Linked DNA regions of Homo sapiens. The protein of the gene in region 1 purifies or fractionates together with the protein of each later gene. This does not show direct contact. Each region holds a gene or a part of one and is shown on either strand. Other genes may lie near its edges. The genes, in order: SDHAF3, ALDH1L1, NUDT9 and ACP6.

Region 1 (7,399 bases):
GCTGCTATAACAAATTACCCTAAACTGGGTGGCTTATAAATAGAAATCTGTTTCTCACGTTTTGGAGACTGCAAAGTACAAGACCAGGGCACCAGCAGATTCAGTGTCTCATGAGGGGCCACTTTCTGCTTTAACATCTTCTCACTGTATCCTCATATGGTAGAAGGGGCAAGAGATCTCCCTGGAGCTTTTTTTTTATACGGGCACTAATCCCATTCATGAGGGCTCTACCACCTAATAGTATCACACTGGGAATCAGGTTTCAATAACTAAAGATACAAGTCATTTAGCATAATATTTTTTAAAATCCACATTTTATGTTGTAAATGGGGTTACCGTTTTTTAAATTTGAGATCTTAGGAAAGTTTCTTATACTTAAGTTGATTTGTAATGTCCTCAACTATTAGTTGATAAATGAGAGTCTCAATGTAGCTACACATTATTTCAGGGGTTGTTATTAACAAACAAACACTGGAGGAAACGTATTATACTTTGTATAGTTTATTATACAAATGATTGATAGTAAAATAGTGAATTTTAAAGCTTCTTCCTAACCTTTCATTGTGAATGAACAGTGATGCAGGGAGAAGAGACATTCAGAAGAAAAATCATGTATGTATTATTAAACTAGAAGTGATAAAATGTTCAGAATGACAATGTATTTAAAAAATAATAACCTTGTTGGAATTGTACATCTATCATTATCACAACATGCTTATTTGATGAAGCTAAAGAAAAGCCAGAAGACTAATATGGCTGGATGAGAATAGCATTTTAAAACATTTTCAGCAAAATTCTAGAAATTTGCTGTTTAGTTCCAAAACTGAATTTCATACAAGTGCTATTATTCCAATAGTTTTTTTCAATTGTCACTAGTGATCTTGATCCATATACTGCAATCATAATATCCAAAATAAAAGAGTATTTCATTAATAACAGGTGTTTTCAAAGCTTAAATATATTTCAAAAACCAATGACAGTTAAAGTAGGGGTTCTAAATTTTTGCATGTCTTATTAAGCTTTGTTGTATAGACTAAAATTTTGGTTTCATAGACTCAGAAATACTAAATTGCCTATTGGGTTTTGTGGCTTCTTGCATCAGCTCCTGCAACTGTCCAATTTGTTCATCACGAAAGTCATTAAGTTTTTCTTCTGGGAGGAAGGTGCCAAAACATGCTTTTCCAGTTGAATTTTGTCTGTTTTCGTTAGCCTGTTGCAATAACGCTGTTGCATACACCTAAAAAGATAAAGAATGAAGGTTATAGATGTAAAGTTTAAATAATATTTAACATTAGAGGACTTGAATTCTAATTCTGAGTCACCTATTTTTCCTCATCAGTAAATGCAGAAGCATTTGGTTAAGGAGATATAAATATAGTTGTGAAGATACAATTCATTGATCATTTCATGTATATCTATTTTTAGCACTTTAAGTGTTTTAACCAACTTTTAGCAAAATTTTTAACCTGGATATAAGTAAAGAGTGGTGAGTCCCTGGATGGGCTTCAGAAGCATGCATAAACCACCTCAAACCATATGCAAAATTGTATTTACACAAGTACGGACATCATTTCTGGGGCCATAGCTTTCAACGGATTCTCAAACAGGAACCATGGGTCTTTTTTCCCCCAACTTTTATTTTAAACCTGCACATATATCCCCTAGATACAAGGGGTACATGTGCAGGTTTGTTAGATGGGAATAACTGCATGATGCTCAAGTTTGGGTACAGGTCCTGTCACCCAGGGAGTAAGCACAATACCCAACATGTAGCTTTTCAACCCATACCACCCTCCAGTAGTCCATGCTGTCAGCTGTTCCCAGTTTACATCCATGTGTGCTCAATGTTTAGCTCCCACTTAAAATTTTATTTTTCTGTTCCTGTGTTAATTTGCCTAGGATCATGGCATCTATGTTGCTGCAAAGGACATGCTTTCATCCTATTTATGGCAGCACAGTATTCCACGGTGACATGTAACACATCTTCAAGTGAGTCTAAATTCATTCCTATGTCTTCAATTACAATTTTAATTTAAAATATACTAGAGAAAAACTTCTTAAACCTTTAAGTCTTCAATGTTTAACAACCATCTGTGTCAAGAAAAACTTTTTCATGTTCTAATTTTGCTCTTATTAAGTACATTCAGCCTAATATTCCAACTATCCCCATCTGCACAAGTGCCACTGTTTTGAAACAGACTCACTCTAAAATTAATCTTTTAAGCAGACAAAGTGCCAAAGTATTTTAGTTCATGAAGTTAAAGTGAATGAACTGGCTAACTCTGGATAATGCTGCTACCTGATCTGGCTTGAGATATATAAATTGCTTGTAATTGCTGGAATGGCAGCATTGCCAGAGCAACTTTAATTCCAAACATTCCAAACCTATGGAGAAAATATTTTTTCCATGATTTACAGAAATCCACTTATTAAGATGAAAACATTTCAAGTTTTATCAATTCCACTTCTATATGCTTCAGGGCAGGCAGGGTTTTTCAACCTTGGCACTATTTTGTGTGTGTAGGGGGGGTAGGGGTGGGGAGGGGTCAGTGAGAGTCTGCATTGCAGGATGTTTAGCAGCATCTCTTGTCTCTGACCACCAGATGGCAGTAACACCCCTCTCCCCGTCTTGATAATCTAAAATGTCTCGAAACACTGCCAAAGGTTTCCTGGCAAGGCAAAAATCACCCTACCATCCTAAAGAAACTTTAAAACATGTGAACAAGTATCATGCAGAAGAATGTTGATTGTTAAAGCAAAAAAAAAAAAAAAAATGGAAATAATTGTACTTCAATAGAAAAGTCAAATACACTGAAATTTACTCAGATGATAATAAAGATGTCACAACAAATAAGCTACAAGTCTATGTATCAACACGGATGAAACTCCAAAAAATAAAATCTAAAAAGCAGGCTTTAAGAAATTATTCATTTACAAAAATGGACAACTAAGGAGCTCTAAATAGCAAAAACAGAGGACTCACAACTCCCAATTTCAAAACTTAACTAGAAAGCCACATTAAACAAAAGTGTGGCACTGGCATTAGAATAGATATATAACACCAATAGAATGAGGAGTCCAGAAGTAAATCCTTACATATATAGCCAATTGATTTTTGATAAAGATGTCAAATCCATTCAGTGGAGGAAAGAATAATCTAGGCAACAACTGGTGCTGGGAAAACTGAATTTCCACATGCAAAAGAGTGAAGTTAGACACCCCATCTTCTACCATATACAAAAATTAACTCAAAGTGAATCAAAGACCTAAATATAAGAGCTAAAATCATGAGAATCCTAGAAGAAAATATATAGGTAAATCTTTATGACCTTTGATTTGGCAATAGGTTCTTAGATATGACACCAAAAGCCCAAGCAACAACAACAAAAATAAACTGGACAGTATCAAAATTAAATACTTCTGTGCATCAAAGGACACCTAATAGTAAAAAGACAAACTACAAAATGAGAAAAAATTTGCAAATCGTATCTGAAAAGGGTTTATTATCCAGAATATATAAAGAACCACAACTAAAAGACAAATAGCCCAATTTAAAAATGGGTAAAGCACATGAATAGACATTTCTCCAAAGATATACAGATGGCCAAGTACATGAAAAGATGGTCAAAATCATTTGCCATTAGAAAAATGTAAATCAAAACCACAATGAGATGCCACTTCACCCTAAGATGTCTACTATAATAATTTTTTAAACCCCAGAAAAATAACAGTTGGAATAAACTAGAATCCTCATACATTGATAATGAGAATATAAAATGGTATAGCCACTGCAGAAAAGACTGGCAGTTCCTCAGAAAGTTAAACACAGAATTACCATATGATCCAGCAAATGCACTCATAGGTATATTACCAAAATAACTGAGAACAGGAACTCAAACACATACTTGTATACACAATAGACGACATTTGGAAAATAACCTAGATGTCCACCAGCAAGCAGATAAACAAAATGTGGTATACACATACAATGGAATATTTATCACCCTTAAAAGGGAATGAAGTTCTGATCCATACTACAACATGGATAAACCTTAAAAAGATTATGCTAAGAAGCCAAACATAAAAAGACATATTGTATGATTCCACTTACATGAAATATCTAGAATAGGAAAATTCATAGACAGAAAGAATAGATAATACTAAGGGCTGGGAGGAGGTAGGAGAGGGTGTTACTGTTTAATGGCCACCGAGTTTCCGTTTGGGTGAGGAAAAATCTAGAATAATGTCTCTACAATGTATCATTTACAGTGTCCAGGAAAAAAATTAAAAATTATTACAAACACAGTTAAGAGAAGAGGCAATCAATGGAGACCAGTGCCTGAGATTATTCAGACATTAGAATAAGCAGAGATAGATTTTAAAGCAGGTACTATAAATGTTAAGTATGTAAAAGAAAATACGGTCATCATAAATGGGGCAGATAAATCTCAGCAGAGAATGAGGAATTATAAGAACCAAATAAATTCTAGAACTCAAAAATGCACTATCTGGAATTTTTTAAATGTCACTTAATAGTAGACTGGAGATGAAGATTCATGAACTTGAAAATACAGCAATAGAAATTATCCAGTTTTAAACAGAACAAAACTATTTAAAAAATGAGTAAAAGATCAGTGATCTGTGAAACAATGCCAAAAGATCTACCGTAAGTTTAAGTGGAATCCAAGAAAAGAGGTTACTGCCTTAGCAGAAAAATAAATTTTAATGGGTATCTTATTTTTTTTTTGAGACGGAGTCTCGCTCTGTTGCCCAAGCTGGAGTGCAGTGGCGCGATCTCGGCTCACTACAAGCTGTGCCTCCCGGGTTCACACAATTCTCCTGCCTCAGCCTCCCCAGCAGATGGGACTACAGATGCCCACCATCACGCCCAGGTAAATTTTTTGTATTTTTAGTAGAGATGGGTTTCACTGCGTTAGCTAGGATGGTCTCAATCTCCTGACCTCATGATCCACCCGCCTCAGCCTCCCAAAGTGCTGGGATTACAGGCCTGAGCTACTGTGCCTGGCCGGATATCTTATTTTTATAAAGTTTTATGAATTTTAATGAATATTTTAAGGAAAAATAAATTCAAGAAGCTTAGCAAGTTCCAAGCAGAATACAAAATACTATACCTAAGCATATGATAGTTAAATTGTTGAAAAATAAAGCAAAAATCTTTTTTAAAAGTTTAAAAATATATATATCATTTACAAATATATGCAAATGTACAAAACATAAAAACAAGCATGGAAACAACCAACATCAGGATCCTGATTACCTCTGAGGAGTAAGAAAGGGGAATGGAATTTTAGCTGTACCTTTTAATATTTATTTACTTTAAAAAAGTGAACTAAATATTTCAAAATATTAATATTTGTTAAATCTGAGTGGTGAATACATAACTTTCCCATTTTTGAAAATTTTCATAACTTTGTGCATAATTTCAGAGAATATTTCACTTAGGGTATAATTTATAATAATTATGGGAATAATGTTTCTTATGGAAAGTAGAAATACATTTCATGTGTGAGAAATGATCAATGAATGAACATCTTGGGTAGAAAGACTCACGAAAAGGAAACAAAAAAACCCAACCTTTCGCCCGTACACCACCCATTACCGACTAGTCTTTGACTCCATGTACTTGCAACAGCATTCCTTTCCTGGCAAGAGAGAAAAATGGCCAAAATAAAAATAACTTCAGGACCACAATTTGGAGGTTTCCAGATATAGGAAGAAGCAGCAGTAAAATGTGAATTTATGACTAAGTCACCCCGCCAAGCATATCTACCTGGAGGGAAGAGACTCAGAACAGAAAAATACTACACTACACATTAACTAACAGCATCCTTTGGTTTCAAACTGTTATGCTGGCTTCTAAGAATAATGCTATCCCGAAAGTTAGAAGATTCCCTATGATTGCTCTCTTGAACCAAAGAGAATGTGCAGTGCTTCCTCAGGGTAAGTTAAGCAGCTGCTTCAAGTAGCAGAAAGCTGTCGAAGAGAGACACTTTTGAGTATGGTGAGAGCAGGTGCAGTGGGCTGAATGGTGTCCCCAAAATATGTCAAGTCCTAATCTCTGAAACTGTGTTACCTTATATGTATATTATAGGTTTTGCAAGTGTGATTGAGGATTCTGAGATGAGATTATCCTGATGGTCCTGAAAATACGGTCACAAGTATTCTTAGAGGGGATGAGATAAATTAGGCATACAGAGGAGAATGTGATATGAAGAAAAAATAAGTTTGGAGCGATATGGCCATAATTCAAGGGAATCCTGGATCCACCAGAAGCTGAAAGATGTGGATTTCTTCCCTAGAGCCTCTCACTCTTTAATTAGGCCTCTCCAGAATACACTACCATTGTTTTAAGTCAGGCTGTGGTAATTTATTACAGCAGACACAGGAAATTAATACAGCAGTGAACTACAGAAACACAGTCTTAAAGTCTCCTAGTAGAAAAAAACTAACGTTCATGCTATACTGTTTCCCACTAGAGTTTTTGAAAAGGCAGAGAAGCTGTAGTACCAGTTTGTCAGTGATAGAACAATTAAATATTATAAGGCCAGCTATGCCTTCACTGTACTCTCTAATTCTCTACCTGTATATTAAACTTGCTTATAGTCTGAATCAAATTGATACTATTAAATTACTGGTATGGTCGAGCACACTGGCTCACACCTGTAATCCCAGAGCTTTGGGAGGCCAAGGCAAGAGGACTGCTTAGTTTTTAGTAAACCAAACATCACACATTCTCACTTGTAAGTGGGAGCTAAATGATGAGAACTCACGAACACAAAGAGGGGAACAACAGACACCTACATAAGGGTGGAAGAAGGAACAGAAAAGATAACTATTGGATATTGGGCTTAATGACTAGGTGATGAACTAATCTGTACAACAAACCCCCATGACACAAGTTTACCTATGCAACAAACCTTCACATGTACCCTCAAACCTAAAATTAAAATCTAAAAAAGTGTCAGTTTAATAACATTAAGAAAACAATCAAATTATAAATTATCTTAAATTACTTCAATTTTAGAACTCATTTATCTATTATACAGATGTTTTTAAAGAATAGAAATGAACTATATTAGATTTCTTCTTACCAGCATTTAGAATCAAACTAAATAAACCATTTCAAGGAATAACATAGAGAAACAACCAGATATTACATGTCTTCTGATATTAGTACATATTACCAAAACAACAACAACAAGAAAACCAAAAACAAACAAAAAAATACACCTAGTAAGCCTCTACATCTAATTATCAATTTACAGGAAACACAAGAGACCTAAGTGTTAAACATCACCATGGGAATGCAATCAGCATGATTCAGACTATGAAAAACTACATAACAACGCCAGTCTCAGAAGTAATAAAGGAAAAATAG
Region 2 (8,116 bases), on another chromosome or scaffold:
TGCAAAAGCTGTCCCACAGTGACCAATGAAATACTGCTTCAGGACATCTGAGATCAAGGCCAAGTAGGAGTCCCAGCCAGGCCTGGTCTGGGTCCAGGGTCAGCAGCTGGGGTCAGTGGTCACTTAGTGGCTGGGTGTAGGACCCAGGCTGTGGTGGGGTCAGGGTATGTCATGGGTCACTTGTGGTCAGGTCCAAGACTGAAGCCTGGCTGGCATTGGGTGTTGAGTGTTGGAGTTGATTCTAGGGCCAGGCTGCAGCTTCCCCACTGAGGGAGACTGGCTTTCCTTAACAAACTACACCTCTGTGCCTGGCCAGGCCTACAAGCCCCCTTTCCTAATCCTGGCCCTCTATCCTTAAGCCCTGCCCCACAGTCTGTCTCCATCAGGCCTGAGAAGGACCAGTCAGTGTTCCTAGAGGGTCTGTTCATCCAAGCTGAGGCCCCTGCATCCTGTCTGCTGAGGTTCCCAGCTCAAAGGCAGTGACCCAGACCCATGATTCTCAAAACGTGCTTTTCCTAGTACAAGAGATGCCAGTATCTCCCAGGAACTTGTCCCAGGTTAACAATTTCACCTAATTCTGACTTTTCCACCTCATTCTGAATCCGAAACTCTCAGGGTGCGCTTAGTACTCTCTGTGTTTTTTTCTTTTCTTTTACAAAATGCCAGGGGAGAGTGCAAATGCAGTTCCCCATTACCACAAATTATGAAGTCGAGTTTCCCACCTTTGGGGAAATTGCAGGGATCAGCACATCCAGAGTACAATGGAGAAGACTCGCCCTGGGAAAACCACCTTTGTGATCATGGTCTCTCCCCTGATGGGTAAGTAGAGCACTATGTGTTTTGACGGCAGCCCCAGCAATGGTGATGCCGCGCATGCCCACCTTTCAGAATATGGACCCCCAGTTCAGAACATGGAGACCTTCCCAATCATGGGTGCTGGGTCAGAGAAGCTCTGTGTGGGACCTGGGACCAGGCTGGGCTTCTCTATAGCCCTTCTCCAGGACCCTAATGCCACCCCATGATCAGGTGGGGAGGGGATCTCCAATTTATTCCAGAAAAGCCCAGCAGCCTGTTGGCACTGGAGCAGGATTCAAGGTAGACCACTTATGGCTGCCTCCCAGCTAGAGCACAGGCCCTGCAGACTTCTGCTCCCAGACTCCCACCTACTGCTTCCCTTCTACCTGGATGGGCGGGCCGCCCTCCATCAGCTTCCCTGCTCCATTGGCTCACTCACCCAGGGGGTCGGCCTTTCCATCCTTGTCTGGAACAGTGAACACACCCACCACTTCGTGGCCCTCCTTCCTCAGGTGGCAGTAAACTTCCTGGCCAAACAGGCTCTGTCCAATCACTGCAATCTTCATGGTAGCAGGAGGGTTGGAAGGACCTGGAGAAGGAATAAGGCAGCAATTAGACAGAGATCGCTGGTCTCAGAGAAGCCAGCCCTGGTTCAAGACAGGGCAGTTCATGGCACCTGGCCTGCTCTACCCCAGTCCCCTCTGTGGCTCTGTGGGTGGCAGGCCACTGAGGGGAGACTGCCACTGTAAGAGAGACCAGATGAAACATGTACACATGACCCAATGGATCCCTAATGTCAGAATATTCAATGCGACAGCAGGTGAGCTGGAAATGGATTGTAGAATTAGGGGATTTCTTTTTGAAACCTTCCAAACTGGCATGGAATGTTGGGTGTCAAGATGTTTGATATGTATTTGAGCATATTTCTGTAACTAACCAGTTCTATGGCCTTGGTCAAGTCACACTTGTTCATGAGAAAGATGCCACATCTCTCAAATGGCTTTCAGCCTACAAATTAGGCTTATTCCTCTGAGCCAGGAGTCACAAAAGGAGCAAGGGGAGTCCCCGCCGAAGGGGCTGTCCAGCTGAGCTGCAACAGAAAAGGGGCCTGCGTGGGGGCGCCTGAGGATGAAGGTGGTGGAAAGTGGAATGGGATTCCACTAAGGAAGATGTGTAGAATGAAGCCTAGCTAATCATGCACATTCTCCAAAGATTGGTCATTCATTCACCTCACGCATATCTGTAAAACCTGAACTATTATTCACTTAATACAGTTCTTTAAATTGTCCTTTTACGAAAATAAGATTTTATTTTGGAAAATTTTATTAAAGTAATGTGTACTTCATACATACAGAAAGTGCACAAATCATAGATGTGTAGCTCAATGAATTTCACAAACCAAACACACCACTGTCAACACCACCAGAAAGAGAAAAACTCCAGGAACTCTTTGAGCCTCTTCTAGTCACTACATTCACCAAGAATGATGGGACTTCTAACAGCATCGAATGGTTTCGCTTGATATATATATATATCCCCTTTATATGTATTCATTTTACATAAATGGAACCATGCAGTGTTTTGTAGATTTTCTCCCTCAACATTATCTTTGTGGTTGCATGTAGTTGTACTGAGTTTATTCTCATTGCTGCAGAGTATTTTGATATGTGGATGACCTCTAGTTCATTTATTCATTCTATTGTTAATGGAATTTGGGTAGTTACCAGTTTAAAGGTATTACAAATAGGATGCTACAAAGATACTTGCACATGGTCTTCATGGTACACATGTACACATCTCTGTCAGGTGTGTACTTAGGGTGGAATTCCTGGGTCATAGGTGTGAAAATTTCCAGCTTTAACAGACGCTGCCAGTTTTCCAGAGTGGTTGTATTAGTTTCCACTTCCATGTGCTCTCCACTTTGGCTTGTGTCTTCATTTTAGCGCTTTTCCTAACATGAAATACAGCTGTCTCATTGGGGTTTAATTTGCAATTCCCTGATGACCAATGAAGTCGAATGCCTTTTCCTGTTTCTTGGCTATTTGGATATCCTTTTGTGGGAATCATCTCTTCAAATCTTTTGTCTGTTTTTTTCCATTGGGTGGTTTTATTCTTATTGAAAAGGAGTTTTTTTGTATTGTTGCTCTGTTTTGTTTTTTAATCATCTAGACTTTGAGCTCTTTGTCAGATATGTGTATGGAAAATATCTTCCCTAATTCTGTGGCTTGCCTTTTTCATCCTCGTATAATGTCTTTTGATGAACAGATGTTCTTAAACTTAATATAGTACATTTTATCAAACATTTCCTTTATGTTTAGTGGTTCTTGTATTCTATTTAAAAAATCTTTGCCTACTCCAACTTCATGAAGATGTTCTCCTTGTCATTCAAGATCTTTATTGTTTTGCCTTTTACATTAGATGTGCAATCCCTCTGGAACTGATTTTTTCATACAATATAAGGTAGAAGTCCAGAATTTTTTTTCCATCTGCATATAAAATTAACCCAGCACTAGTTACTGAAAAGACGTTTCTTCATTGAAAAGGATCATACATGTACACATCTATCTTTGAAACTTTAGTCAGTTTGTCTATCTTTGCATTTAGTATAGCTTAAAAATGTTTTTTGTTGTAGTGGTGAAGATACATAACCTAAAGCTTTATTGTAGCTGATCTACCTAGTAGTTGTGAAGTGGTATTTCATTGTGGTTTTGATTTGTATTTTCCTATTGAATCATGATGTTAAACATCTTTTCATGTGCTTTTTGGCCATTTGTATACCTTCTTTGGAGCAATGTTTATTCGAGTTTTGACCCATTTTAAAAATTGGTTTGTCTTTTTTGTTGCTAGCATATAGAAATACAATTGATTTTGTACACTGACGTTGTATTAACTAGCACCTTAATTGCTTCACATATAAATTTTCATACTGTGTAGATTCTTTGTGGTTTTCTAAGTATAAAATCATGTTATGATGTTGGTTTTAATTCTTTCTTTCTAATCCTGAAGTCTTTCATTTCATTTACTTTCTTATAGCACTTGCCAATATATCCACTACAATATTGAATACAGATGGTGATAGTAGTTCCTGTCTCATTCCTGTGACCTTGGGAAGAAACCATTCAATATTTGACCATTGGTTAGCTTTGGGGAATTTTGGTAGATAGACTAGCATATTATGAAAGTTGTCTTATTAATATATTTCTGGCTGCCAATCATGACAAGGAGTTGACTTTTACCAAATGTTCTTCCTATAGGTCATGAGATTTTTATTTTATTGTGGTGGATCATAATGATTGATTTTTAAATGTTAAGCCACCTTTGCATTCTTGGAATGAATACCACTTGACCATGATGTATAACCTTTCTATATATCTCTGAATTTGAAGAGCTGGTATTTTATTTGTTTTTAAATCTATGCTTGTAAGAAATATTGACATGAACCAGTCCCAGTCGCTCATGACTGCAACCCCAGCACGTTGGGAGGCTGAGGTGGGCAGATTGCTAGAGGCCAGGAGTTCAAGACCATCCTGGGCAACATAGTGAGACCCCATCTCTGCAAAAACAAACAATAGCTGGACATGGTAGTACGTGCCTGTAGTCCCAGCTACTTGGGAGGCTGAGGCATGAGAATCACTTGAGTCTGGGAGGTCTAGGCTAGAGTGAGCTGAGACCCTACCACTGCACTCCAGCCTGGGCAACAGAGTGAGACTATGTCTCAAAAAAAAAAGGCAAGGCAAGGCAAGGTAGGGCGGGGCAGGGCAGGGTGAGGCAGAAAAGAAGAAAAGAAATATTGATGTGTCAAATACTTCATTGTAACAAATGTCCTATTCAGGTTTTGGTGTAGCTTTCTCTTTCTTTCAACTTTTATTTTAGAAACAGGGGGTGCAGGTGCAGGTTTGATATATGAACATATTGCACCCAGGTAGTAAGCACAGTACCCAACGGAGTTTTTTCAACCCATTCCCGTACTCCCTCTAGCAGTCTGCAGTGTCTGTTGTTCCCATTTTATGTGCATGTGTGCTCAATGTTGAGCTCCCACTTACAAGTGAGAACGTGCAGTATCTGGTTTTCTGTTTATGCCTTAATTCACTTAGGATTACGGCCTCTAGTCCACCCATGTTGCTGCAAAAGACATGCTTTCACTCCTTTTTATGGTTGTGTAATATTCCATGGTGTATATGTACATTTTATTTATCCAATCCACCATTGTTGGGCACCTAAGTTGATTCCCTGTCACTGCTGTTGTGAATAGTCCAACGACGAACATACAAGCGCATGTGTCTTTTTCATATAATGATCTATTTTCCTTTGGGTATATACCCAGTAATGGGATTGCTGGGTTGGATGGTAGTTCTAAGTTCTTTAAGAAATCTCTAAACTTTTCTTTAAGAAACTTCCACAGTGGCTGAACTAATTTACATTCCCACCAACAGTGTATAAGCGTTGTTTTCTCTATAGCCTCACCAGCACTGTTATTGACTTTTTAGTAATAGCCATTCTGACCAGTGTAAGATGGTATCTCATTGTGATTTTGATTTGCATTTCTCTAATGATTAGTGATGAGGAACATATTAAAATTTTCCTCATTTTAATTAGTGATGAGGAACATATTGAAATGTTCCTCATTTGTTGGCTGCTTGTACGTGTTTTTTTGGGAAGTGTCTGTTCATGTCCTTTGCCCATTTTTTAATGGGGTTATTTGTTTTTCGCTTATGGAAGGGATGTTGGATTTTATCCAAAGCTTTTTCTGTATCTATTGAGATGATCATATAGTTTTTGCTTTTAATTCTGTTTATGTGGTGAATCACATTTATTGATTTGTGTATGTTAAACCAGCCTTGCATCCCAAGAATAAAGCCCACTTAAGCACAGTATATTAACTTTTTGATGTGCTGCTGGATTTGGTTTGCTAGTATTTTGTTGAGGATTTTTGTGTCTATGTTCATCGGGGATATTGGCCTGAAGTTTTCTTTTTTTGTTATGTCTCTGCCAGATTTTGGTATTAGGCAGATGCTGGCTTCACAGAATGAGTCAGGTAGGATCCCCTCCTTTTCAATTTTTTTGTAATACTTTCAATAGGATTGGTGTCATTACTTCTTTGTATGTCTGGTATAATTCAGTGTGAATCCATCTGGCCCTGAGCTTTCCTTGGTTGGTAGTTGTTTTCATTACTGATTCAGTTTCAGAGCTCAATATTGGTCTATTCAGCATTTCAATCTTTTCCTACTTTAGTCTTGGGAGATTGTGTGTTTCTAGGAATTTATCCATTTCCTTTAGATTTTCTCATTTGTGTGCATATATTTGTTCACAGTATTCTCTAAGAATCTTTTCTAATTTCTGTGGATTGGTTGTAATGTCATCTTTGCCATTTTTGACTATACTTATTTGGATCTTCTCTTTTTGTGTGTTAATGTAGCTAGTGGTCTAATGATCTTGTTTATTTTTATTTTTTTGAAAAACCAACTCTTGATTTCATTGATCTTTTGTATGGATTTTTGCATCTCAATTTCATTCAGTTCTCTAATTTTTACTTCTTTTCTTTGACTGGCTTTGGGGTTGGTTTGTTCTTTTTTTCTAGTTCCTTTAGGTGAAGTTAGTTTGTTAATTTGAGATCTTTCTATCTTCTCGATGAAGCCATTTAGTGCTAGAAACTTTCCTCTTAACACTGCTTTAGCTGTATCTCAGAGATTCTGGCAATAGGTTCCCCATATTCAGGGTTTCTTCTACTTTAAACCGCACCCCTCGTCCTTCTCCACCGGTTCAAAAACTGCTCCAACCAGTCAAACCTCCCCTGCCATTCTCCCTCTCCGGGAAGTGGCCAGGGTTAAAGGCATTGCTCACGTTCATGTCCCCTTCTCCATGTCTGATTTGTGGCAGATAGAACAGCTTCTGGGATCTTTCTCTAAAAATCCCTCTCATTATCACAGGGAATTCCTGCATATAACTCAATCCTTTCATTTAACTTGGCATAACATTTATATAATTCCAAAATCCACCCTTACCTTTAATAAAAAAGAGTGCTCAGCTTAATTAAAATGGATATCCAAGAAAGTATATTCAAAAGTCCTTTATGTTTTTCTCTTCATAAATCTTGTTTTCCTGAAAAAAGTTTTTTTCTCAGCCAAAATTACATTTCTCCACTCTGTCTTGCCACTTTTAGTGCATGTTTATAGAAACTTAACAATGTCTTTATTAATAATTTTATTATAAAATTTCATAAACCATGTTTTTCAAAATAAATTTGTATCAAATCCAGCTTCCCAAAAATGCTAATAGTTAAGTATATCAATGTACTAAGTAAATCATTCACTCATACCCACTGGGAAAATTTAATGTTACTGCCCTTCACAGTGAAAAAAAAATCTTTCATTTTAAAAATTAAATTTAAAAATGTTACATAAGTTGGCACTTCAGTAGTGTATACACTAGCATTAGTTTATACACTACTTTTGCCACTGGGGAATTCAAGTTAAAATGCCCCTCTGTCATATAGCTCTAAAATACATCTTTCATTCATAATTTCTGCTCATACAATTAAATAGTTTGGGTCATTTTCATTTATACTATAAAACAAAAGCAAACTAGTCCAGTTTAATTTTTTATACTTAAAATACTGCACATTTTCTGTATATGAGTCATTCAGATTAGTATCTACGTAGGTTCAGTCAAATCCAACCATAAATTCAAGTTATTATACTATATAAGCCTATAAAATACATAGAAGTATTATTACGTTGCCTTTATAACAAAACCCAAGAGTCTGTTTCAATTTATAAATTCAGCATTTAAGCAAAAAGATTTTAGTTCCCAAAGTTCTAAAAAAATGACAAAACAATAAGGAAAAAAGGAACCAGGGCTTAGTGCCGCATATTTTTCTCTTGGGGTTGTAAGGTAGTCTCCTTCTTTTCAGAACACTTTATTATATTTCACTTATAGACCTAACTTTCTGTGTTGAAGTATAATTCTCATGCTGAAGCTCTAACCTAAAAAGGCAAAAAAAGTTGTCTTCATTGTACAAACATATTCATCGCTTTAACAAGATAATAAGGGAACAAAATTTAGAATGCAAGCTAAGTAAGAATACTATCTCTATAAACATGTCCCTAAGATAAACCATAATTGGCAGCTAATTTACCTGTCTAGAAAATCTCAGTTCCCACCAGCAAAAATATCCTCAGTGGCTAGTGCACCTTAAGAAAAATCTGGCATACTAAATAAATAATGTTAACGTGGGAGCCAGAAGCTACCCAGCCTTGCCTTTAGACTCCTCTGTGACTACAACAATAAAGCCAGCACTTTTAAAACTAGTAAGCATTCACAT
Region 3 (8,116 bases), on another chromosome or scaffold:
GGTAAAATTATGATAGCTCCTTTCCCCTGCTCTCACAATACCAGTCAATTTGCCCTTCTTAAGACAAATGATTGACGGGGCAAATATCCACTTGACCAAGGTTGTGGACTAAGTCAACAGCATGTGCCTCCTGATCTCATACAGTGAGAAGCATGCAACAGTCATTTGAGGTATTTCTCCCAAAAATATATGACATGAATCTGAACATTAGGAAACACAAGACAGACCCAGGTTAAGAGACATCTTACAGAATAAAGGTGTGTACTCTCTAAATTGGTAAGGTCATGAAAGATAGAGAAAGGTGCAGGAACTCTTCCAGATAGATTAAGACTAAAAAGACATGACAATTAGAAGCAATCAATGATCTTGGATGGGCTGATGACCATAAAGGAAAAAATAAACATTGCAGGATAGGTAGTAAAGTTTGGATGGGGTTGTATAAATAATTTTAAAAGGTGAATTTTTTTAAAGTATCTATTTACTCCCAACAAAGAAAAACCCAGGACCAGATGGCTTTACTGATAAATTCTACCAAACATTTAAAGAAGAATCAACACCAATATTCCCTCAACTCTTCCAAAAACGTGAAGAGGAAGTAAACACTTCCAAACTCACTCTGAGGCCAGCATTATCCTGATACTAAAGCTTGACAAAGACACTATAAAAAAACTACAAACCATTATCTTTGATTAATACTGATGTGAAAATCCTCAACAAAATAATAACAAACAGAATTCAACAGCACATGAAAAGGATTATATGCCATGACCAAGGGAGACATTCTTGGAATCCAATGATGGTTCTATATAATGAAAATCAATCAACATAATGTATCACATTAACAAAATAAAAAAAAAAAACACAATCTTCTTGATTGATGCAGAAAAATTATCTAACAAAATTCAGCACCCTTTCACGATTTAAGAATATTCAACAAACTAGGAATAGAAGGAAATTACCTCAACATAATAAAGGCCATATATGAAAAGCCCACAGCTAATGGTGTGAAGGTGAAAGACTGGAAGTTTTTCCTCTAAGATCAGGAACAAGACAAGGATGTTCACTTTAATCAATATAATACTGGAAGTTCAGCCAGAGCAATTAGGAAAGAAATAGAAGTTCTAGCCAGAACAATTAGGAAAGAAAAAAAAAGGAAAAGGTATCCACATTGGAAAGGAAGAAGTAAAACTGGTTGAGCATCCCTAATCCAAAAATCCAAAATCAGAAATTTTTTGAGTGCTGATATGATGCCACAAATAGAAAATTCCACACCTGGCTTCATGTGATGGGTCACAACCAAAACTGTTTCAGGCACAAGTTTAAAATACTGTATAAAAGTATCTCCAGGCTACCTGTTTAAAGTATATATAAAACATAAATGAATTTTGTGTTTAGACTTGAGTCCCATCTCCAAGACATCTCATTATGTGTATGTGAATATTCCAAAACCTGAAATCCAAACCGCTCTGGTCTCAAGCATTTTAGATAAGGGATACTCAACCTGTATTTACACATCGCATGATGTTTTATGTAGAAAACCCAAGATAATTCATGAAAAAACTGTTAGAACTAATAAATGAATTCAGCAAAGTTGCAAGGTATGAATCAACACACAAAAATGGTTACATTAAAAAACACTAACATGCTGGGTGCACTGGCTCATGCCTGTAATCTCAGCACTTCAGAAGGCAGAGGCTAGTGGATCACCTGAGGTCAGCAGTTCAAGACCAGCCCGGCCAACATGGCGAAACCCTGTCTCTACTAAAAATACAAAAATTAGCCGGGCATGGTGATGTGTGCCTGTAATCCCAGCTACTCGAGAAGCTGAGGCAGGAGAATCACTTAAACCCCAGAGGCGGAGGTTGCAGTAAGCCGAGATCAAGGCTCCATCTCAAAAACAAACAAACAAACAAAGCACTAATAATTAACAATCCAAAAGGAACATTAAGAAAATTCTACTTACAATAGCATAGAAAAGAATAAAATACTTAGGAATAAACTTAAGGAAGCAAAACTCTTATACACTGAACACTACAAACTATTGCTAAAAGAAATTAAAGACACCAATAAATAAAAAGACATCCTATGTTCATTGACTGGAAAAAAATATTAAGATGTCAATACTACTCAAAGTTATCCGCAGATTCAATGCAATCTCTGTCAAAATCCCAATGATGTTTTTCCAGAAAGAGAAAACTCTACCTTAAAATTCATATGGAATCTCAAGGAACCCCAAATAGCCAAGACAATCTTGAAAGGGAGAAACAAGTTCAAGGTCTCACACTTACTACACAGCTATAGTAATCACAACACTGAGATACTGGCATACAGAAAGACATATAGACTAGTGGAATAGAAGTAGAACCCAGAAATAAATCCTCACAATAATTTTTGACAAAGGTACCAAGACCATTTCAACAGGGAAAGGGCAGTCTTTTCAACAAATGGTGCTAGGAAAATTGGATATTCACATGCAAAAGTAGTATGAAGTTTGACCCTTACCTTTCACCATATAAAAACATTAATTAAAAGTGGGTCAAAGACCTAAACATAAGACCTAAAATGATCAAAATCTTAGAGGAACACATGCTGACAAAATTTCACGACACTGGATTTGGTGATGATTTTCTGGATATGACACCAAAAGTACAAGCAACAAGAGAAAAAATTGGTAAGCTGGACTATATATTACATCAAGATGAAAAACTTCTGGGTATCAAAAGACACAATCAAGAGAGAAAAAGCAACCCATGGAACAGGAAAAGATACTTGGTAATCACATGTCTGATAAGGGGTTGGTTATATCCAGAATATAGAAAGAACTCCTACACACAACAACAACAAAACAACCCAATTTAAAAACGGGCAAAGGACTCCAATAGACATTTCTCCAAAGAAGATATACAAATGGCCAATAAGCACATGGAAAGATGCTCAATACCACTAATTATTAGACAAAAGCAAGTCAAAACCACAATGAGATACTACCTCAGACCCATTAGAATGACCACTATCAAAAAAACAATACAGAAAATAAGTATTGGCAAGGATGTGGAGAAATTTACTTGCAATAAAAAAAATGACATCAAACAATTTGTATTTCTGTAAGGCATTGCTGAAAAAAGATTCAGTAAAGTCCTATAATATGGTACTATTTTTATAAAGCAATGACATAAAAAATAAATAAGCACATTTCAGTGCATGTATATAATGTATTAGTTTTCTACTGAAGCCACAACAAATCACCACAAATTCAATGACTTAAGACAATAAAAATTCATTGTCTTACAGTTTTGTAGGTTAGAAGTCCAACACAGGTCTCACTCAGCTAAAGACAATTTATCAGCAGGGCTGCATTCCTCTCTGGAGGCTCAAGAGAAAAATCCATTTGCCATACTTTCCCAGCTTCTAGAGGGAATCCTCATTCCACCTGCATTCTGTGGCTCATGGCCCCCTTCCATCATCTTCAAAGCCAGCAACATAGAAATCTCTCTGACCATGTATTAGTAATCATATCTTTGATCACGGCCAGGCCATTTTTTAAGGACTCTCAATTAAATCAGGCGCACCTTCCAGGATGCTCTCCCCATCTCAAAGTCCTTAACCTTAACCACCTCTGCACTCTCTTTTGCTATGTAAGGCAACATATACACAGGTTCCAGGTATCAGGATGTGGACATACTTGGGGGGCCATTATTCTGCTTACCACAACTGTCTATACTATTTATTATATAAGCATATATAGAAGGAGCCATATAATCAGGTTCTTAATATGGGCTAGGAAATAAGGTGCTGATGTGAAGAGAAGTAGAGGCAAACAGAAAGAGGGAAAAGAAAGGAAGGAGAACGAAAAGGAAAGGGAGGGGGAAAGGGGAGTACAGGAGAGAAGAAAAAGGAGATGAGGGGGAAAGAAGAGACAGTGGCAAAGATGGGGGGGAAACGGGGAGAGAGAAAAGGAGAAAAGGAAAGGGAGTTGCAAGAAAGGATAAGAAAAAAAGAACAAGAAAGAAAAACAAATTTAAAAAGGATAAGAAAACTGAAGGAAAAGGAAACAAGGAAAAAAAGAGAAGGAAAAAAGACTACCCAAATTTACCAAATAAAGTGAGGTATGCCTGATCAAATTTATGCAATTAGGGCAAATTACATAATTATATATATATAAAAAGAAACTTCTCAGTGGGGCACAGTGGCTCACGTCTGTAATCCCAACACTTTGGGAGGCCAAGGCAGGGGGACTGCTTGAAGCTAGGAGTTCAAGACCACCCTAGGTGAGACAGTGAGACCCTTATCTCTACAAAAAATTTTAAAAGTTAGTCAGGCATGGTGGTATGTGCCTGTAGTTGCCGCTACTCAGGAAGCTGAGGTGGGAGGATCTCCTGAGTCCAGGAGGTCAAGGCTGCAGTGAACCATGATCACGCCACTGCACTCCAGCCTGGGCAACATAGTGAGATCCTGACTCATTAAAAAAATAAGAAACCTTTTTAATTAAAATTCTTAACCTGACTTACAAGAACTGCTTCCTAGACTTCCTCCTGGTCCCTCTTCGGTGTATATAGTGTAAACATGTACCTACCATTAGGTATCATACGCAAGTTTCACTGCCCTAAAGGCAGTGAATTTTACGTGTACAATTCCATAAGAGTTGATGCGTGTCATTATACATTTGTCCAAACCATAAAGTACAAGACCAAGAGTAAACCCTGATATAAACTACAGGACTTTGGGTGATGAAGCGTCAATGTAGGTTCAATTTTAACAAACGTATGGCTCCGTGGCTCTGTGGGGATGTTGACAATGCGGGAGGCTATGCATGGGTGGAGGTAGGAGGTATACAGGATATCTCTTATCTTTAGCTCAATTTTGGTGTGAACCTAAAAACTGCTCTAAAAAAATGACTATTTTTTAAAGTCCTCTGTGCTACCCCAATTCATCCAACTCCTGATCTTTTTACTGTCTCCATAGTTGTGCCTTCAAGAATGCCATATAGTTGGAATCATACAGCCTTTCCTTCAGTTAATAATATGCATTTAAGATTCCTCCATGTCTTTTCATGGCTTGATAGCTCATTTCTTCTTAGCACTAAATAATATAATATCCCATTGTCTGGATGTACCGCAGTTTATTTATCCATTTACCTACTGAAGAACATCTTGGTTGCTTCCAAGTTTTGGCAGTTATGAATAAAACTGCTATAAACATCTGTGTGCAGGTTTTTGTGTGGACATAAATTTTCAATTCATTTGGGTAAATACCAAAGAGTGTGATTGCTGAATTATAAGTGTTGAGTTCTGTAAGAAACTGACAAACTGTCAGTTGGATTTTTAACTGGTTTCATTCTTTCCTATTCTTGTGTGTCTACAGTTTTATATACTGTTCAAGCTGTTCTCTTTCATCACATTTAAAGACTCTGAAACAATTACTATTTCATTTTACACTCACTTTACATCTGCAAAGTGTGGTAAAACACCCAAAAATGAGGGAAAACCTAACTAATAAAGAAGTTAATATCCCCAGACGGGCTGAAAACTAGTGTAACGTGAGCGAGTATTTGATTTGTGACTAACTTTACTAAAAGCAGTAGGTTCATTCACTTTCATATTATGATTATGACAACTTTCTTGCCTCAGCTGCCACAGTTTAGGAAACCTACACAATGAATATTCTGAAAATAAAGTCTCCCTCACTCACCTTAAACCCATACTCAATAAAAAATGAATACATATATGAAACACATTTATCAAAATTAGCAAACAGACTTCAGGTGTTTTAAAAAGCAAAATTTTAACATATGGAACCCTAATCTCTAATTGAACCCTATCACAAAATGAGTTATGTTTCATGGTTTGGGAGTAGGGCAAGAAAAAAGTTAAGGCCATTAATTAAATACCAAACAGGAAACACTAATGCTGTTCCACTCCATCCCACCCACGTACCAAAAATGTTTAAATAACTTAAGGCTCTTTGTTCCCTGATTTAGCAATAAAATGTTTATGGAATTCCACAAATCTACCTACTTGACAAGACAGATTTACACACTGGATTATTTACTTTTCTAAAACAAATTTAATTGTGCAAAAATTCAGGCTATACATCTTATCACATCAAGAAGTGCTAACACTGCTATCTATATATGCTATTTAAATGTGATACACTGTAAGGTACCAGAAAAAAGAATACTTGTAATACACACATATACAGCCTTGACCTTTGTATTGTATTATTGAACAAGTGCAAGAAATATATTTGGCCTAGCAAATGGGAACTAAGTAGCTGATAAAGTCCATTTACATGGCAAAAACCAATTCTTAAGACTGGCAAACTTTTAAAAATGCAATACTGACGTGGTGCTTTGAAATAAAATCTGCAACAATCATTGTCATAATCACACCTAAATGTATATAGTGATTGCTATGTGCAAGACAGTGTTCTAAGCACTGTAAATTAACTCACTTGATCCTCACAACTGAGTTCAGGTACTTTTTTTTTTTTTAACTTTTTTTTTTTTTTTTGAGACAAGGCCTCACTCTGTTACCCAGGCTGGCATGCATTGGTACAATCATGGCTCACTGCAATCTCGACCTCCCAGGCTCAAGCAATCCTCCTACCTCAGCCTCCTGAGTAGGTGGGACTATAGGCATATGCTACCACACCTGGCTTTTTTTTTTTTTGGTTTAGTTTTTTGTTTTTTTTTTTGGCAAGGGAGTGGTTTGGTAAATCAGGTAGGCTGAGCGACTCCCAATTTTGTTTATTTTTTGTCAAGATGGGGTCTCACTCTATGTTGCCCAGGCTGGTCCTGAACTCCTAGGCTCAAGCAATCTTCCTGCCTCGGACTTCCAAAGTGCTGAGATTACAGGTGTGAGCCTCCACACCAGGCCATATTATCCTTTTTCAATTTTTTTTTTTATAAATAAGAACATTAAGGCCAGGCGCAGTGGCTCACGCCTGTAATCCCAGCACTTTGGGAGGCCGAGGCAGGCGATCGCAAGGTCAGGAGTTCAAGAACAGCCTGGCCAACACAGTGAAACCCCGTCTCTACTAAAAATACAAAAAAATTAGCTAGGCATGGTGGCAGACGCCTGTAATCCTAGCTACTCACTAGGCTGAGGCAGGAGAATCGCTTGAACCCTGGAGGCACAAGTTGCAGAGAGCCAAGATTACACCACTGCACACCAGCTGGGGCGACAGTGCGAGACTCTGTCTCAAAAAAAAAAAAGGAAATAAGAACATTAAGACCCAGAGAGGTAAATAAGTTTACCAAGGTCACACAATTGAGAGTAGAAATCAGGATCCAAACCTAGGCAAGCTGTCTTAGAATTCCAGGCTCTTAACACTATGTTTTACTATCTCTATTTCATTTTTGGTTCATTCATATGTTTTATGCATTCACAGGAATAAAACAATATTCTACACACATCACCAGTAGATCCTTCTGGAAGATTTGTATGTTGTGGTATGTAAAAGCATTCACTACATCTTTGTAATATACTACCTTTTTTCTAGAAAATGTACATTTGATGACTGGGAGCAGTGTCTCACACCTACAATCCCAGAACTTTAGGAGGCCAAGGCAGGAGGATCACTTGAGCCCAATAGTTTGAGACCAGCCTGGGCAACATAGGGAGACCCATCTCTACAAACAATAAATAAATTTTTAATTAGCCAGGCCTGGTAGTGCGCACCGGTAGTACCAGATACTCAGGATGCTGAGCTGGGACAATCACTGAGCCCAGGAGGTTGAGACTGCAGTGAGTCATGATCACACCACTGCACTCCAGCCTAGGTGACAGAGCAATTAAAAAAGAAAATGAACATTGGAAACCTTCTAGTAATCACAAAAACTAAGTGCAAAACTGTCACTTTCTGGGTTTTTCCAAATTATCAAAGACTGGTAAAATTCTTTTTTTTTTTTTTTTTTTCAAAGAGACAGGGTCTTGGCCAGGCGTGGGGGCTCACACCTGTATTCACCAGCACTTTGAGAGGCCAAGGCAGACAGATTGCCTGAGGTCAGGAGTTCGAAACCAGCCTGGCCAAAATGGTAAAACCCCATCTCTACTAAAAATATAAAACTTAGCCAGGCATGGTGATGGGCGCCTGTAATCCTAGCTACTAGGGAGGC
Region 4 (3,518 bases), on another chromosome or scaffold:
ACTGGTGGTTTGAAATCAGAGAAGGGTTGAAATAGATTCTGGAGAAGAACAGCAACATTGACAAGGAGATAGGGGGATCATCAGGTACTCTTAGGGGGCACAGTTAAAGGTGGAGCTCTTATGTTGAGTAGTTCCAGCCTTACCATTGCAGAGCCCTGGGGCCCACATTTGTTTCTGGAACTAAAACCACCAGGGGCCCAGTGTCCTTCCTGCTTCTTCCTGCTGAGCCTCCACATCAGGGTTCCATCTCACCACCCAGCAACGTTCCCTGACCTTGAAGCCTATCCTTTATCTAAACGCAACACGCTTTCATCCTTGCTTTCCTGGTTAACTCCTACCCACCTTTCTCTACTCAGATCAGGCCAGGACTTTTTCAGAAGCCTTCCTTGACTGTTCCCCACATCCCCTGCCATGTGAGCAGGAAGTTTCTTCTCTATACCCAAATAGCCCCTCAAATACCTATTACAGCATAAAACATACAGCACTGTATCACTGATTTACTCGGCTGCCTCTCCCACTGGACTGCAACAACTTGAGGGCAGAGTGTTTTCACCTTTATAATGATCACTACTTAGTAGGTAGCTCAATACATGTGAAATTAATATAGGAGAAAAGAACTAAAGTCCAAAACCGACACAATTCTACAGGGTCATGATGTCCCCAGCCCGTGTCACACAAAGATGCTTCTAACCTTAGAAACCAACTCACAAAATAGAGAAATATCCTTTTGGTCTCAATATTATACCCCTTTTCCGTTCAGGAAGAAATCTTAGTAAACCCACAGAAAGGAAATATCCTTACATTATATTAAAGTACATTACCCCTTGCTCTCTCCTCTTCCCAAACACACAAAGCAGGAGGCATTGTATAAAGGCACTTTATTTTAAAATCAACACATCCTGCTTTTATAAATCAGTTACTCTTCATTTCCAACTTCCATCACCTGAGTTTGAGAGCAGAGTGCGTGGTATTTTTCTGGGCTTAAGGTATAAACTGACATGGCATTCAAGAACATGTCCAGCGGGCAGAGCCCATCAGGGCAACCTCTCGGCACCTGCTCCTGCAGAAGAAACATAACTCAGCAGGTCCGCCGAGGAACCTGTCCTTCTGCTATTTCCAGCTAAGCCCAGAGATCTGAGAGGCTCTGATCCATGTGGTATACATGTGCATACATATTACAGACAGGAAGGCCCCACTACCCGGTGAGCTTCCAGAATAAAAGCACTATGCTCTGCTTGTAAAAGTCACTCAAAAAGTGTTGAATTGACTGGGAAGAAAGAGTCGAGTTACATCCCCGAGCTGGGAGAACCAACAGGCTCATCCCTGGGGCGTGCTCTGGCCTCTGCCCTGGACCCCAGCCCTGATGAAGCAGCCAACACCACGGGTGCTAACAGCAGCACACATCACCTCCCAAAGATACCACCAACAATCTCCAAAACAGGTCTCACAGCCAGGAGGCGACATCCTGACAGGGACGCTCAGGAGAAGAGGAGGGGGACCCTGTTCCTAGGAGTCTGTAACAGAACTGGGATAAGGCTCAAGCCCCATCCTGCCACCATCTGTCAAGTTCTGCCTGACCCCTGGGCCATAGCCAGGAGTTGCCCTATAGGATTCAGAGAGCTGACTGTGCCAAGAGAGACTCCACTGGGCCTGAGGAGGGAGACTTGGTGCTAACTCAGGTAGGTGGGTTTTGCAGGAGGGTGCCTCACCACCACCCAACCCCACCTCAGGGGTATTACCTTCCCGTGGTAATAGAGCTGCACAAACCACTCCTTAGATTCCAGGTGCTGGTAAAGTTCCATGGTCAGGTCAACAGCAAACGGTGGCCATTTGTGGTCAAAAATCCCCAGGGTCATTAAGAGCGGTATGAAGGTCACATCATGAGCCGCATAGAGATACAGCTTTCTGCAAGAGGAAACAGCTCTCCACAATTCTCTGCCTCAGGACTCTGAAGGTCAGGATGTGGCCTGCCTCCTTTACGTAAGACACACTTGCCTCAGAAACTAGGTGACATCTAGAAATCAGCTGAGCCTGGTATAAAAGTCCTTTGCAGTAGATCGTGGGAAGAACCCTTGTTCCCACTCCCCGTGTCTTCATGAGGAGGGTCCCCGCCAGAGAAATTCTCCTGGCCTCCTCCTTGCCACCTACTCACTCCTCCCTGGTGAGTTTCAAAGAAGAAACTGAGCGTGTGTGGCTTAGACCCTACCTCTCTTCTCTCTTTGGGTCCTGCCAGCCTACATGAATGCCCTTCCTACTCTCAGCCATGGGATGAGTTTAGTAGGGCTCCTTGTTGGGGAAGCTTGAAGTTTTGGGGTATTAAGTTTATTTCAAAATAATATTCACAAGCCCATTTGGCCCTCAGCACATTCTCCAAATGGCTTTAATCTGTAATAAGAATGCCATTTTAATCTACATCTGCCTGACACCAGTATCCATCTCTTAGGAAAGACCAAGGATTTTATTTATGGACCCCCATCCTAGAAGACTAGCATTGGATCCTGTGGTGTTCTAAAGATCCAAGGCAGAAGGTGGCAAGGTGGCAAAAGCCAGAAAAAATGTACTGTCATTGCAGGTACTGTGAAGGACAGGAAATGGTATTCACAAGATTTGCTATTACAAATCTTGGCCCAAAGTTCCTGTTTCAACTCACTGTCTCCTATTCCTCTTACGCCATCATGAGTTTCTAGCTGTGATACCACAACAGTGCTTCTCCAAAATTCAGGTGACTATCAATCACCTGGGGATCTTGTTAAACTGCAGATGCTGATTTAGTAGATCAGGCTGGAGCCTGAGAACCTGATGAGTTCTTGGGCAACGGTGAAGCTGTTTTCCTGCAGAACGCACTTAGCAAGTGCCTAGGACACATAATATTCCACAGCCGTAGTCCCAACCTTGGATTCAAGGCTCCAAAAGTGGCAATGGAGGCTCATGAGCTACTTCCAACATTTTTTTTTTTTGAGACAGAGCCTGGCTCTGTCACCAGGCTGGAGTACAGTGGTGTGATCTTGGCTAACTGCAACCTCCGCCTCCTGGGTTCAAGCAACTCTCCTGACTCAACCTCCCGAGTAGCTGAGACTAAAGGTGCGTGCCACCATGCCCGGATAATTTTTGTATTTTTAGTAGAGCAGGGTTTCACCATGTTGGCCAGGATGTTTTCAATCTCCTGACCTCGTGATCCACTCACCTTGGCCTCCCAAAGTGCTGGGATTACAGGCGTGAGCCACTGCACCTGGCCACTTCCAATATTTTTAAATGCCTTATGGATATCATACCTTCTTTACACTCAATGAAAGTGGTTCAAACTACACAATCCATTAAGCAATTTATCTTTGTTTTGGACTATTATCATATCAAATCAGTGTGACATCATAATTGGCTACTGTTTGACATATCTTCAATTAATAAAAAAAAGAGAGAGAGAAAGCAAAAATAAAATTTTCAAAACATGGTAGGAGGGGTGCAGCAGGAAGAAAGGTTAAAAGATTGTGAACCTCTTTGACACTTGAGGCCTGTTAAAC

The links.
Region 2: the proteins of SDHAF3 (region 1) and ALDH1L1 purify together in Homo sapiens (co-immunoprecipitation; one large-scale study listed by IntAct). This does not show direct contact.
Region 3: the proteins of SDHAF3 (region 1) and NUDT9 purify together in Homo sapiens (co-immunoprecipitation; one large-scale study listed by IntAct). This does not show direct contact.
Region 4: the proteins of SDHAF3 (region 1) and ACP6 purify together in Homo sapiens (affinity purification with mass spectrometry; one large-scale study listed by BioGRID and IntAct). This does not show direct contact.

What each region holds. Positions count from the first base shown.
Region 1 is NC_000007.14:97,174,850-97,182,248, reverse strand, and holds the end of SDHAF3 (succinate dehydrogenase assembly factor 3, mitochondrial precursor), read right to left. Parts: intron 4,787-7,399; exon of another isoform or gene 4,751-4,786; intron 1,990-4,750; exon of another isoform or gene 1,900-1,989; intron 1,238-1,899; coding exon 1,034-1,237; 3' UTR 486-1,033; downstream 1-485. UniProt on the Homo sapiens protein: Plays an essential role in the assembly of succinate dehydrogenase (SDH), an enzyme complex (also referred to as respiratory complex II) that is a component of both the tricarboxylic acid (TCA) cycle and the mitochondrial electron transport chain, and which couples the oxidation of succinate to fumarate with the reduction of ubiquinone (coenzyme Q) to ubiquinol.
Region 2 is NC_000003.12:126,159,619-126,167,734, forward strand, and holds part of ALDH1L1 (cytosolic 10-formyltetrahydrofolate dehydrogenase), read right to left. Parts: intron 1,385-8,116; coding exon of another isoform or gene 1,362-1,384; coding exon 1,235-1,361; intron 820-1,234; exon of another isoform or gene 667-819; intron 558-666; exon of another isoform or gene 465-557; intron 1-464. UniProt on the Homo sapiens protein: Cytosolic 10-formyltetrahydrofolate dehydrogenase that catalyzes the NADP(+)-dependent conversion of 10-formyltetrahydrofolate to tetrahydrofolate and carbon dioxide.
Region 3 is NC_000004.12:87,425,513-87,433,628, reverse strand, and holds part of NUDT9 (ADP-ribose pyrophosphatase, mitochondrial isoform a precursor), read right to left. Parts: intron 1-8,116.
Region 4 is NC_000001.11:147,646,507-147,650,024, forward strand, and holds part of ACP6 (lysophosphatidic acid phosphatase type 6), read right to left. Parts: intron 1,906-3,518; coding exon 1,740-1,905; coding exon of another isoform or gene 1,671-1,739; exon of another isoform or gene 1,061-1,670; coding exon 917-1,060; 3' UTR 1-916. UniProt on the Homo sapiens protein: Hydrolyzes lysophosphatidic acid (LPA) containing a medium length fatty acid chain to the corresponding monoacylglycerol.